Homo sapiens: one gene and its partners. The protein of the gene in region 1 purifies or fractionates together with the protein of each later gene. This does not show direct contact. Each region holds a gene or a part of one and is shown on either strand. Other genes may lie near its edges.

The links. The genes of interacting proteins can lie anywhere in the genome.
Region 2: the proteins of RNF145 (region 1) and ADIPOR2 purify together in Homo sapiens (affinity purification with western blotting; one study listed by BioGRID). This does not show direct contact.
Region 3: the proteins of RNF145 (region 1) and SPTB purify together in Homo sapiens (affinity purification with mass spectrometry; one large-scale study listed by BioGRID and IntAct). This does not show direct contact.
Region 4: the proteins of RNF145 (region 1) and SUPT6H purify together in Homo sapiens (affinity purification with mass spectrometry; one large-scale study listed by BioGRID and IntAct). This does not show direct contact.

What each region holds. Positions count from the first base shown.
Region 1 is NC_000005.10:159,161,054-159,164,553, forward strand, and holds part of RNF145 (RING finger protein 145), read right to left. Parts: intron 2,027-3,500; coding exon 1,879-2,026; intron 570-1,878; coding exon 213-569; intron 1-212. UniProt on the Homo sapiens protein: E3 ubiquitin ligase that catalyzes the direct transfer of ubiquitin from E2 ubiquitin-conjugating enzyme to a specific substrate.
Region 2 is NC_000012.12:1,771,070-1,774,569, forward strand, and holds part of ADIPOR2 (adiponectin receptor protein 2), read left to right. Parts: intron 1-1,772; coding exon 1,773-1,892; intron 1,893-3,500. UniProt on the Homo sapiens protein: Receptor for ADIPOQ, an essential hormone secreted by adipocytes that regulates glucose and lipid metabolism. Required for normal body fat and glucose homeostasis.
Region 3 is NC_000014.9:64,869,908-64,873,407, forward strand, and holds part of SPTB (spectrin beta chain, erythrocytic), read right to left. Parts: intron 2,772-3,500; exon of another isoform or gene 2,415-2,771; intron 1-2,414.
Region 4 is NC_000017.11:28,672,205-28,675,704, reverse strand, and holds part of SUPT6H (transcription elongation factor SPT6), read right to left. Parts: intron 2,949-3,500; exon of another isoform or gene 2,847-2,948; intron 2,335-2,846; 5' UTR 2,304-2,334; coding exon 2,195-2,303; exon of another isoform or gene 2,087-2,194; intron 1,423-2,086; coding exon 1,264-1,422; intron 1,169-1,263; coding exon 1,092-1,168; intron 736-1,091; coding exon 543-735; intron 305-542; coding exon 220-304; intron 1-219.

The DNA.
Region 1 (3,500 bases):
ACATTAGAACCCAAGGGACTAAATTTAAAACTTAATTTAGAAATAAAATGGAAATATTTTATCAGGTCTTTAATATAATTTCTGAGGTCCATTTTTTTTAATCCAGAAGATAATTTTGCCTAGAAATTTAAGTTGAATTTGGTTAATATGGTTACAGTCCCAAGGGATACACTGTATGACTTACCCAAACACATTCTTATTGAAGGAGTTACCTGATAACAGATGGCACAAATATCATTGTGTTTCTCAAGCTGCTCTTTCGTAGCAATGGGTAACGATTTAATCTTATTCACAGCATCCCTGCGGAGAAGAAAGCTCTTCCACCCCAGCTGGGCCCGAAGCCACACGTTATAGTAGGAATGAATGAAGATGATCATTGAGCCCATCACTGTCCATTCTCCAAAGATGGTCTCTGAGACGCCATAGGCCACCACACAGAGGGCCACAAGAAACTCCAGCAGGCGGTAAGTGCCATTCACATAGTAGATGACATCATCCATGTTTTCCACTGGCTCTTTTCTGAATTCCTCAACCATAAATAAGACATAAATAAAAAGTGTTCCCAGAACCTGAAAAAAAAAAAAAAATGTACGTATCTTGAAATATGATCACTAAGATACTTTTTTCATAGGCTTTAAACAATAACACATTCCTGATGTTTTTAGGGTGCAATATTTCAAATATACAGAAGAGTATCCAGGGGAAAAAAAAGTTTTAATAAATAAAAAATCAACTCTAAAGAGAAGACACTGATGACTAAAATGTGGGTGATCTTAGTAATCCAGGCATAGAAAACAAAAAGCCACACCGTCAGACGTGACTTTCCTAAAATGATTCTGATGAGTAATCAATTTTTTGATTCATCTTTTTCCCTTATTCCTTAGGTCACCAAACCTCATCAACTCCATCTTAATTTTCCTCATACCATAGTCATTCCTGTTCTACAACTCGCAAAGAAGTTTTACTTCTGCAAAAAAATAATGAATAACTCTTCACTGTGTTATGTTTTCCTTTACCTAGGTAGCAAAGATCTTCCTTTAAGTTACAATAAGCTTATCATTTCTAGGGCAATATTTTGTGTGTGCATGTCTGTGAAACATGTATCATGTCTGTATGTGTGCAATACACACACATCATATACATATATATTTATATACATCGTGGAACTATTGGTATTTTTGAGTGGAATTTAAAAAACACACTCCAAATAAGCTCTAACACAAGCTCTAAAAACTTTTAATATTTTAGTTACTTGTCAATTTAAGATTTATATGACACCTCTGTATCATACCATTTTGAAAAAGAGAAACTGAAAGGCTTAATTACCTTCATAAAAAATACAGTGACATCAATAGGTTTATGTAATATTTTCTTTTTTTTTTTTTTTTTTTTGAGACGGAGTCTCGCTCTGTCGCCCAGGCCGGACTGCGGACTGCAGTGGCGCAATCTCGGCTCACTGCAAGCTCCGCTTCCCGGGTTTACGCCATTCTCCTGCCTCAGCCTCCCGAGTAGCTGGGACTACAGGCGCCCGCCACCGCGCCCGGCTAATTTTTTGTATTTTTAGTAGAGACGGGGTTTCACCTTGTTAGCCAGGATGGTCTCGATCTCCTGACCTCATGATCCACCCGCCTCGGCCTCCCAAAGTGCTGGGATTACAGGCGTGAGCCACCGCGCCCGGCCGGTTTATGTAATATTTTCATAACCTGCCATCTAACTCCTGTGCTCAAATAAATGTAATGTGTTCTAGTAAAGAGAGAGAGAAGTTATCACCTGAATAGTCCACTTATAATCATTCATCTTGAAAAAATTTAATTCCTCCTCTGGGAGGAAAAATAACAAAATTGGTTATTATATAGAGTTAATTAATCATAGGCTTACCTGAAGAGAGGTAAGAATGCTGCTGGAAATAATGATAAGAAGCCAAAAATCCATGTGGAAAAACTGGCAAATCATATAAGCCATATAAGCAGGGAATACCAATAAAAATAAACAAAGGCTTACAGCACGGAAGTGTTTCCACAAGCTCCTGGAGAAAGACAAAATTATTCTTTTTAAGTGCCTGCCACCTAGTAGCACAACCACTCACATCAGCAGCTAACATCTCTGGTGCCATGATCAAATTTCACAAATTCCCACTGAACACCCTTCTCCATGCCAGTCACTGTACTAGAGTTCAGACCAAGTCACACAGGCTTGGCATGTCAAAGCCACCACACTCAGTCAATTGCAAAGTACAGCTGATTTTCTTTTGTTCCTCAATAGTTTGCTTTCAATTGCTACTCCTAGCAATTTCAAATTATTTCAGGCTTTTGTAGCCTTAAACCTTAACAATTTCAATAATTTTTCCTGGTTAAGACAGGGAGGGAGTATTAGAATAATTTGTGGTCTTTTTCAAATCTTATGACACCCTCTTCCCACTGTTTCCACTTGTGATGAGAATCTCTGCTACAGAGAGTGCAGTGTGACTAATAGGAATGACTCTCCAATGAGCAGGTATACTCATCCTCACATCTGTTGTGGTCAGGGTAAGTGGGAGACATGACTGAGAGCAACTGTATTGTAAGATCTACTACCTGGTTTTCCTCCCTCCTCCAGCCCTGATCTATCCAGGACACTGCCAGCCAGACTAATCCTCCTAAAGCTCTACTATCGTAATATTTTCAACACTGTCTCTAAATTTTTGAGCCTGGCATTTGAGGTCCTCCACTCCTAATTTTTCCATCCAAGCTTGTCAAATCTGTTCCTCATAAACCAAGCTGCTTATTAACTAACTGCCCTCTCAGCAAAACACAAGCACTCTTACGTCCCACTAGAAATTCCTCCATCATGCTCTCCATTTCTCTAAACCCTTTAGGCTAGTTCAAGCTAAACAACTTTGGCTTTCAATTGAAATAAAGCTCATGGCTACAAAAAAATTTAAGCTGTTTTAATTAAACATCAACATCTGTGATATGTTCTCAAATCCAAGTAAAGCATCTCAAAGAGACACAAATAACATAAATCATCTCTCCTACCTTTAATTATAATATAGTCAGGAAGTAAAAGTTACCACACACAAGGTCAAATGCTATACAGTGTGGTCCTATTATAATCAGTAATTCAGAGAAGAAAGTTAATTATTATGGTAAAAATTAAAGCTGCATACTTTGGAAAGTGTTTTACATTTTTTCTTGCCAAAAACTAATAATAATAATAATAATAATCAGAAATTAAGGAACAAATGTAAACTTGTCAGTAGCTTTGCTTTGAGATTCAGCAATTTTAACTTTTTAAAGAAAGGCAGTAGCTGTACTGTGTTAGATGATGAATTATAGATCTAATAGGGCAATCTGCCTTAAAACCTTAAATATATTTTTTAAAAATCAAGCCAGCTATGATTTATATGAAATATGTACGTATTTATAAACACACATGCATAGATTTAAGCACACACACAGAAATGTATATACAACAATGTTATGTCAAGAGTTTTACATTTATGCCTAATTTTAATACAGGTG
Region 2 (3,500 bases), on another chromosome or scaffold:
TCCCAACACACTGGAAGCTGAGGCAGGAGGATTGCTTGAGGCCAGGAGTTCAGGACCAGCCTGAGCAACACAGACCTCGTCTCTACACACACGCATGTGCACACAACAGACACAGTGGTGCATACCTGTAGTGCACGCATGCACACACACGTGCGCACAGTGGTGTACACCTGTAGCCCCAGCTATTCAGGAGGCTTAGGTGGAGGATTGCTTGAGGCCAGGAGGTTGAGGCTGCAGTGAGCCATGATCGCACCACTGTACTCCAGGAGCCTGGGTGACAGAGCAAGACCCTGGGGTCTCAAAGAAAAACGCTGTCTCAAACTAAAAAAAAAAAAAGGTCCCGGGGCTTGTGGGTAGCAGTAATGAAAGGTTGAGGAACACGAGTTTAGGATAGTTAAAGAAGGGTTTTAAATAGGAACTATGAAGGTTAGTCATTGAAGGATAGATGGTAAGTTTTAGGTAAACAAAGATGGAGAGGTTATTTTATTCAAGATGGTTTTCTTGGAGATTATGTGTTTTTATAAAATCAGACTGGGTGTATAACATGTCTCACATGCCGCATCATAGCCTCTAGTTAGTGTCTTATAAACTGAAGAATAGGAAAATTAAAATCTCAGAATTTCCTTTTAAACAAGATCAAATTTAAAGTGTTGTAGTAGATTACCCATTGCCTCTGTGTTCATTCTTACCAAGTAGTTTTTTGATTAGAGGTAGAGGATTTATTCATTTCTTTGTGCAGTCATGTTAGCAGTACTGTTTATCTAAACAGACTCTTGGTTACATACGGAATTATGGTTCTCTTGTGCTGTCTTATTCATTGAGTTAAAGAATTATAGAATTTTTTTAGAGATGTAGAAGACTGTAGAGATTGTTTAAACTCCTCCATTGATACATAGGGAGAAAATGGACCTGCAGTGAAGATCCATTGATGTTAGTGGTGGAGCTGGCCTCACCACTTTGGTCTCCTGACTTGCAGTCTACTGCCCTTCTTCTCACAATATCATTTTATCTAAACCAGTATGAACCTTGGTCTGGAGGCAGAAATTTTAATTTTAGTAATTTATCTCTTTAGACCATACCAGATTGTCACTTCTTTTTCCATTTCTCTAGACAAATCAGTCATTTTCTCCAGAATGTGGAAAGGCAGTGGGTTTTGGAGTTTGACTTTTCCACTTCAGCTTTAACCTTGGACAACTTACTTAACTTCTTTGCCTAATGCTCTTATATGTTAAATGGGAATGAGAATACTTACTTAATAAGGTGGTTGTTAGGATTAAGTTAGATGACCTATATATAAAGCCTTTTCCTCTGTGTTGGATATATTTAAAAAATTTATTAAATGTTTTTCTCCCCTTTCTTTCTCTGCCACTAGAGTACTTACCACATTGTGTATCACAGTTAGTTATTTTATGTGTCCCAGGTGCGAGTCTTGGAGGTTTTCCCCTTAGTAATTTCTCAACTTTATGTAATATTATTATGGGGTCTATGACATAATTTTTAAAAAACAAACCAGTAAAGCCAGGAATTTGCTACTGAAACAGAGATGCTGCTATAGTAGACAGTTAATTCATCTGTCAGAGAAGAATTGAGTACTAGTGTTCATTTTTAATACTAATAATTCTATAATAAACTGACTTACTATATTGTTGATTCTTGTCTAAGGCCTTGTTTTGACCTTAAGAATTTCATTATAATTCCACAAGGGAAATGTATTGATTGTGTCATTTGGCTCCCAGTCTCTGTCCTTGACTGTTTCTGTGATTGCCTTGCAGAGCTCTGAGGAACATGAATACAGTGATGAAGCTCCTCAGGAAGATGAGGGCTTTATGGGCATGTCCCCTCTCTTACAAGCCCATCATGCTATGGAAAAAATGGAAGAATTTGTTTGTAAGGTAAGAGTGCAGTTTCTTGTCATTGTCATGCTATATATTTAGCCCTTCCAAAACAGAAACCTTTAAAGAGAGTGGTAGTACTATAGCCTTTGGTTTGCTTTGGGGAAGATCTGTGGCAAGATGGGGACAGAAGTGGTCTTGGGACTCTAATCCTGTTGAAGACAGAATACATTTGTTGGCTTGTAGTAGCCATGATAAAGCTCTGATAAAACTAGGATATCCAGCTGGGAAACAAACATTTCCTAATGTAGGTTAACAGAGTAAATGTCTTATTGGTGGTTTAGACAAACAGAATGAAACATAGTCAGAAGTGGTTGACGCCTGGAGATATGAAAATGCCCTCCGCAGGTCCCTTAAATCTGTTCTGCTGAGTGACTGCAATGGCAAATGTACTGTTCTTTCTAGGGATTCTGTGAGTAATCAGGCTACTCTTGAGAGAGATTTTCCAGTTTCCATGTACATCTGGTATTTTCAGTTCAGCTGGTATACATTCTGTCTCTTAAGGTTTTTCTTCCAGTCCATTGTCTTGATTCCCTAGGACCTATTATGGGATTCTTTTTTTTTTTTTTTTTTTCTAAAATAGTAATTAGAATTGAGTTTGCCTGCTTAGAGAAAATAGACACACTGGTAAACTTGTAGGTACTTGATCAATCAGATCAATAAGGGCCCTGGCAGGTAGAATCTAATTAATGTAAGTCGATCAGTCTGTGTGTATACGTATGTGTATGTAAATTGATTTATTAAACATTTCTGGAGAACTCTTTATTATTTAGAGAGAAATTTTTGTGACACTTAGCTTTTCATGGCTTTTATGAAACCAAAACTTTTTATGTACATGGTCTTAGATCCAGGAGACTAAATATAGGTTTTCTTACATTCACAATAATGCTGGAAATAATTGGGATCAGTGGACTTAGAATGCTATTACTTTGGACCAGGGTATGAAAAGAGAACATTGTGATCTGAACATAGACATCCTTTCCAAGACTAAGGGTCCAGTGGGTTTTCAGGGGGAGTTTAAACATTTATGGGTCTGTAATAGAAAATTTTAGCCAGTTTGAAAATGAGTGAAGAAACAACTGAACAGAACAATAGATTCATTCTAGTGATCACTGTCTCAGGAGAATTAGCACAAAGGGATACAAAAGATTATTTTGTTTTTAAAATGCAAATTTGGTGTGAAGAAATCTCTCAAAGTTGGCAAATTTAGTATCTGGGCCATTAGGGGATTTTAATATTTAGAGATCAGCGGGGTACGGTAGCTGACTTAACTGCCTTTTTGTCCTCTCCCTTTCTGAACAGAGAACAAAGAATAAAACAAATAAAACTCTAAATTTAACAGCAAATCAGAGAATAAATAGGGCAGGACATTTGTTTGCTACAAACTATGATCTTCTGAAGGAAAAGGAGTGTTGTAAATATCCCTTAGCAGTTTGTTGATGACAGCAGAATGAAGAGGCATCCTGTTACACAGTGTTGTCTGGTGTGGCTCAACCCTGCCATGGCAGTGCAACTGACCACACTTGAAAACCAGCCGTGTCTAGTGGCACAGGGATTCTATTTCTTGGACTGGAAGCAAGTAAACAGAGACAGTTTAATATGAAATGT
Region 3 (3,500 bases), on another chromosome or scaffold:
GCATGAGCTGATGTTTCCAGCCTAATTTTTTAATCAACAAATATTTCTGAGCCACTCCCCTCCATGTATAAAACATGGCTCTAGGTGCAGAGGTTTTGTTTTGTTTTGTTTTTAAGCATGAGACTCAGTTCCCCATTGCAAGAAGCTTGAACTAACAGTGTAGAAGGCAAGTTGACAATTACAAAACAAGATGATCCACCTGTAAGAAAGGAGTGAAAAGGGTACTGTAAAAATACAAAGGAGGAAGCAATCAGCGCTACCCCAGGACCTGGTAAGGAAGAGGGGCTGTCAGGCAAGGTTACAAAGAGAAGGCAACATGTAAGTTTTACAGAGGAATCCACAAGGAAAATTTTAAGGATAATAATAAATGTTAAGGCACCATCACAATCACACACACAAAAAGCCCTGAAAAAAAAAAAGTCAGAGAAAGAGGAAGTTCTTCACCCAAGGGCAAACAGCAAGAGGAAAGGAGCTGGAAGCAACCCAGACTCTTGTCATCCAGCTCAAGGAGATTTTTTAGCTGAAATAAAACATCGCATAATATTTACACCCTTCCCCACCTGAGCTTGGGCTACATGCTCTACAAAGCAAATTAAACATCACCTGCCTGTCCTCTAAAAGTCTACAATCTAAAAACAGGCACACTAATAAATGAACAAATTCAAGAACTTTGATGACGAACTATCACCCAAAGACAGTGTTCTGAAACAAACACTTCTCAAGTTCAGTTTGGCCCCCAAAATGAGGATAATAAATTTTTGCCCTTCCCTTTGGAGATGTTAAATACCAAGGGGAAATATTAAAATTGCATGGACGGGTTCCTTAAAAGATTATAAATAGAATTACTATGTGATCCAGCAATTTCACATCTAGGTATATGTCCAAAAGAAGTGAAAGCAAGGTCTCAAGGAGATATCTGCCCACCCATGTTCACAGCAGCATTATTCACAATAGGCAAGAGTAGAAGCAACCCAAGTGTCCATAGACAGATGGAGGGAGAGGGAATGGAGAGTTAGTGTTTAGTGGACACAGTGCTTGTGTTTTGGAAGATGAAAAACGTCCATCTTTTTCATGATGATGGGGAGGGATGATGGTGATGGCTGCACAGCAATGTGAATGTGCTTATGCCACTGAACTGTATGTACACTTAAAAATGGTTAAAATGGTAAAATTTATGTCACATATATTTGAGCAAATAATACACATATACAAAGAAAGTTAATAAAAGAATTTGTGATTATGTTCAAATAGGGTGCATGTATCTAGCCCTAATTTAGCAAGTTTGAAGAAGGGAGAGATTACTGTGGAGTGGAGTGTTCCAGGACGAAGACACAGCCTCGAACCCAAGTTCTGATGGAAAACACTCCAAATCTGGGAGAAATGGTCAGGACTCAGTAAGCAGAAGTGGACAAACTTAGTTTAAGTAGAGGGTTTGTGATGGAAAGTGGTAAAAGAGTAGAAAAAAAGAGACTGGTGCCAGAATAGAATGGCTCCTTAAAAGCCAACTTTATGAGTTTGGATTTCTACCTCTACCCAGAGAAGAACCACTGGTGGCTTTTGAGAAGGGGTGTTATATGATGAACACAGTGGTTCAGTGTGGGATGGTTTGGAGAGGGAGATCCTTAGTTGATAGAAAGTGGACTCCAGGTCGCTTAACTTGAGGGCTACCAAGGTGACTACAAAGTCTACTAAATCTGAAACCTAACACGTGGTGCTGCTAGCTTAAAGCTATGACTTTAAAATGTATCAGGCCAAATGCTTGCACATGAATGGAATTCTTCTCAAAGCATACACAGAAACTGTTGACAGTGGTACCTTCTTAGAAATAGGGCTGAAGTTAGGAGAAGACTTTTACTCTTCATTGTATACCCTTGTATAATATGGATATATGTTTTAACCACGTACATGAGTTTATTTTATAATTTAAAAAGTTTTTTAAATATGACAACCAGGAAGCATCAAAAAATATTTGGGCTTTAACCAGCCAATTCAAAACATTTCTAAAAATAAAGTGAAATATATTTCAATCTTGTTTCTCCCATATCTTAATCTCCATCACATAGTATAAACGTTGTGGGACTGATCTAAAAGTAACAGTACAAAGTACACAGCACATCTAAAGCTTCGCTTCAAACAGATGTCATGAATCATCCCAAAATAAAAACATCTCCTTTTTGGTGTATTTAAATGAAAAGTCTGCCAAGACTATTCCAAGTCAACACCTCGACAAAAACAGAAATTAAAAAAAAATAGCCCATGGTACATTTGATAAAATACATCACCATCTCAGTAAACGACCTTTTTGTTCATCCAGTTGTTCAGGCCAAAAACAATGGAATCATCTTATTCTTTTTCTCTCATCCTCTATATCCAAATCTCATAATCTCTATACTCAGAACCCAACTGCATCTCACCAGGACTATCATCCTGATCCATCCTCTCGTCCTGAACCACCGCAGTAGCTTTCATGGGACTCCTTGCCTCCACTCTTGTGCCCCACAATCAATCCTCCTTAGGGCCGCCAGAAAGATCTGCTTGAGACACAAATCCCAACAAGTCACTCCCCTGCCCACAACTTCCAGTGGCTTCCTATGACACTTGGACTAAAACTCAAAGGTCACAAAGCCTGCACCATCAAGACCCGCTTTTCTCTCCAGCACTGTGGTTAGCTCTCCCCATGACACCCTGCACTCAGGCCACACTGGCCTCTTTGCTATTGCTTGGACACAGCAGTGGCCCCACGTTGGGGGCTTCCCATTTGGTATGGTTTGTCTGTGTCCCCACCCAAATCTCATCTTGAATTGCGGCTCCCATAATCCCTGCATGTCGTGGGAGGGACCCGGTGGGAGGTAACTGAATCACGGGGGTGGGTTTTCCTGTGCTGTTCTCGTGATAGTGAAGAAGTCTCATGAGATTTGATGGTTTTATAAAGGGCAGTTCCCCTGAACATGCGCCTGCCACCATGTATGACATGCCTTTGCTCCTCCTTTGCCTTCTGCCATGATTGTGAGTCATCCCCAGCCATGCTGAACTGTGATTCAATTAAACCTCTTTCCTTTATAAATTACTCAGTCTCTGGTATGTCTTTATTAGGAGTGTGAGAACAGACTACCACTCAACCTGAATCTCTTCTCCCAAACATCCCATGCCTCTCTCCCCACTTCATTTGAGTCTCAGCCCAAATGAAGCCCCATCAGATAGTGTTTTCCCAACCACCCTACCTGAAATAGTAGAACCACCCTTCTTTCCCTTCATATTGCTTTATTTTTCTTTTTAGCACTTGAAATTACAATATATATTTTTGTCTGTTGCTTGTCATTTAGTTCCTCTCTCCCCCAACTACAATGTGCACTCTACGACTTCAGACATTTTTGCCACATTCACTGTTACATTCCCTGGGCCTACAGCATGTCTGGCAAATTAAATGAGAACTCAGTAAATATTTGTTGAAGACTGACATACAAATCAAGGCCCTCAAGATCACTGGACAAAAAGAGGCT
Region 4 (3,500 bases), on another chromosome or scaffold:
CTCTACTCCAATCCCACAGTAGTCCTAGAGTGCAGAGACAGCTCCCAGGGCTTCCGGGAGCAGTCTGAAATCACTGCCTGGTAGAGGTTATTTGAGGCAGGGAAGCAAAATGGCTGCAAGCTGGGAATGCCCCATTTTTGGCAAAGGCCTCTGATCTCCTCCTTCCTGACTGGGCCCACTCAATCACTTTATCCCCACCTTGTACCAGACCCCACTCACGCGTCTGTGTATCCAGGAAGCTTTTTCCGCCACTTAGGTTTTTTCAGAGGCTGTCCATCATCATCCACAATGAAGTCGTCAATATCTGGGTAGGAAAAGGATGGGTTGGGGCTCAGAGTCAGGGGCTGAGCCAGGACTAAATTGCTTTGGTTCCTACTATGTGAGTGGCCAGTGAGCAACAGAGAAGGGAAGCTCCTGAAAAGGAACTTCTTTGTGTCAAATGCTGGGGGATGTAGCTAAAGAATGGTTTCCATCCTGTTCCCATGGGCCAGGAAATCCCAATACCCATCCAAACACTGGCTTCCCTGCCCAATATAACATACCTGACTCCTCATCATCTTCTTCCTCCTCCTCTGGAGGAGCCATGGGGGCCTCCATGGCCTCCTGCCCTTCTTCCCCTTCCCCATCCTGGAAGATTTCTTCCGCAATAGCTTCTTTTTCATGTTCCTCCTTGCCATATTCCTCCTCGTCATCGTCCTCGTCATCTGACATTTTTTTGACACGCCGGTACTTTTGCTAGGGGTGGGAAAACCTGCCTTATCAGGATCTGAGGAGTCTGGCATACGGATACCAAATCTCCAGTCTCACTCCCTTCTTCCCACCACAATTACTCTGACCAAGAGAGATGGGAAAGAACATGCCGAGTGATGCTCTTGTAGCCTCAAAGCCCATCCTTGAAACTTGGACAAGACTTTCTCTAACAGGCACCCAGATCTGGGATGCAAATCTAGGCTCCGTAGTACAATGATACCGAACACCGTGCTCTAATGTTCTCCAAACTGTCCTGCGTGTGCCTCCTCACCCACAGACATTGAAATTTCCAGGGCTTTTTCCTTTACCCCCAGGGACAAAAGACAAAGAATGACACTTACTCCTCTTTTGACTTTGACACCCAAATTCTCCTCAATGAGGTCAAAATCATCATCCTCCAGGCGGTCATCAAAAGAGGCTGAAGAAACAAAGTGTTGCCCATGGTGATGGGGTTGCCCTTTTCCACTGCAACCTCCACCCAAGCCTCACTTGAGCCAACGACAGACTACTCACTGCGTTTTCTCTTCTTGTGGCCAACATCATCTTCTGAATCACCAGAGTCACTGCCCTCATCCTCCTCCCCTTCATCTTCATCATCATCGTCATTGATAAAGCCTTTCAAGTTGCCTTGCTCATCCTGATCATCTAGGTTCTCCTCCTCCTCCTCCTCATCTGGAAGACATGCATGTTTGAGGCATGGAGACTGAAAAACAGGCTAGAGGTTCAGGGTCACTTGATTAATGTGATTATCCATTTGCTCTGCACCTAATGACCTGGGTGCCATGTTAACTCTTCTGCCTCATGTAAAGATGCAAAACATAGCCATTGACTTAGAGTAGCAGCATCTGGAAAGAATGTTTTCTTCCCCTACATTCACCATCTGTCTTTGGGCAGGATGATCTTCCCCGTCACTTTGGCTTCTCAAAATCATTACTAGATTATTATAGCCACCAATAACTTTGTTTTACTCAGTTTGTAAACTCAGCAGCTATATTCCTTTTTTTTGCCATAATTCCTTTGATAAAACTTGTACGTCCCTTTACCCCTTTGAAGTCATTTCGTGGTTCTACTCTGTTGACAATTCTAAAGATTGGGCTTGGCCAGAGAAATAGGAAACGAGGTGAATAAATATCAACAATGCTAGGTCTAAAAGCAGAAAGTATTATATACAGACTTATCTACTGATTTATTATCAACCACCCCCCAACTAAAGTAAACTCCACAATAGCTGGATATTTATTGTTTTATATTTCTAGTTCCAGGCCTAGTGCCTGGCATACAGACAGATGCTCAGTTAGTATCTGCTAAGAATGACTGAAAGTTCTCAAGCTGGTACCTCATGTGTGATAACTTCTGTGCTGAGCCTGAGCTTTTCATCAGCAAGAATCCAACTATCCAAAGCTTAGCAATAGTGGGGAGAAGCTTGAGGCTGGGGCCTCCTCACCATCATCCTCCTCTTCCACAAATTTCTTGGTGACTCGGGGTACCACCTCGCCTTCATCATTGTATTCTTCCTCTGACTCCTCAGCCTCGCTTTCCACAAAATCAGACATTGCTGCAGCTTCTCACTCTGCCTGAAGATAACTAGGGAAAGAAAAGAGTGAAGGATAAAAAAACGGACACATGATTGTACAGAGGGCTCTTAAACCTTCCCACAAACAGCCTTTTAGCAACCTGCCACTGCTCTGCCCACTCAACATTCCCACTTGGGGAGAAGAAAAGAAGAATCTGATGGTTCCAACTCTTCCATTATCCATTCCTCCCAGCATTGCTTCTCTCATATGTACTTTTTTTTTTTTTTTTTGAGGTGGCGTCTCACTCTCTCACCCAGGCTGGAGTACAGTGGCGCAATCTCCGTTCACTGCAACCTCCACCTCCTGGGTTCAAGTGATTCTCCTGCCTTAGCCTCCCGAGTAGCTGGGATTATAGGCATGCGCCACCATGCCTGGCTAATTTTTGTACTCTTAGAAGAGATGTGGTTTCAACACGTTGGCCAGGCTGGTCTTGAACTTCTGAACTCAGGTGATCTGCCCACCTTGGCCTCCCAAGGTGCTGGGATTACAGGCGTGAGCCACCGCACCCGGCCTCATACGTACTTTCAAAAAGAAGGCAAAAGCCAGGCTACTCAGGAGGCTGAGGCAGGAGAATCTCTTGAATCCGGAAGGTGGAGGTTGCAGATTGCGCCACTGCATTCCAGCCTGGCGAGAGAGTGAGACTCTGTCTTAAAAAAAAAAGCCATTAGGCCAGGCGTGGTAGCTCACTCCTATAACCCCAGCACTTAGGGAGGCCAAGGCAGGTGGATCACCTGAGGTCAGGAGTTCGAGACCAGCTTGGCCAACATGGTGAAACCCCGTCTCTACTAAAAATACAAAAATTATCCGGGTATGGTGGCAGGTGCCTGTAATCCCAGTTACTCTGGAGGCTTAGGCAGGAGAATGGTTTGACCCCGGGAGGTGGAGGTTGCAGTGAGCTGAGATTGCACCACTGCACTCCAGCCTGGGCAACAAGAGCAAAATCTGCCTCGAAAAAAAAGAAAAAAAAAGAAAAGAAAAAAAGAAAAAGAAGGCAATTATACCAGACTTGTATATGTATCATCTCTCTTCCCCAAAGTTTTACCTCACTTACCATTTGAAGACAGGAATGGGCAAATGAGGAAAGAAACTAATGTAGGGACAATTAAGTGGGGATATGGTGGTAGAGTGAGATTATGTGATCTGCTTCTAGGAGGCTTGGAAACAATAAGTGCCAAC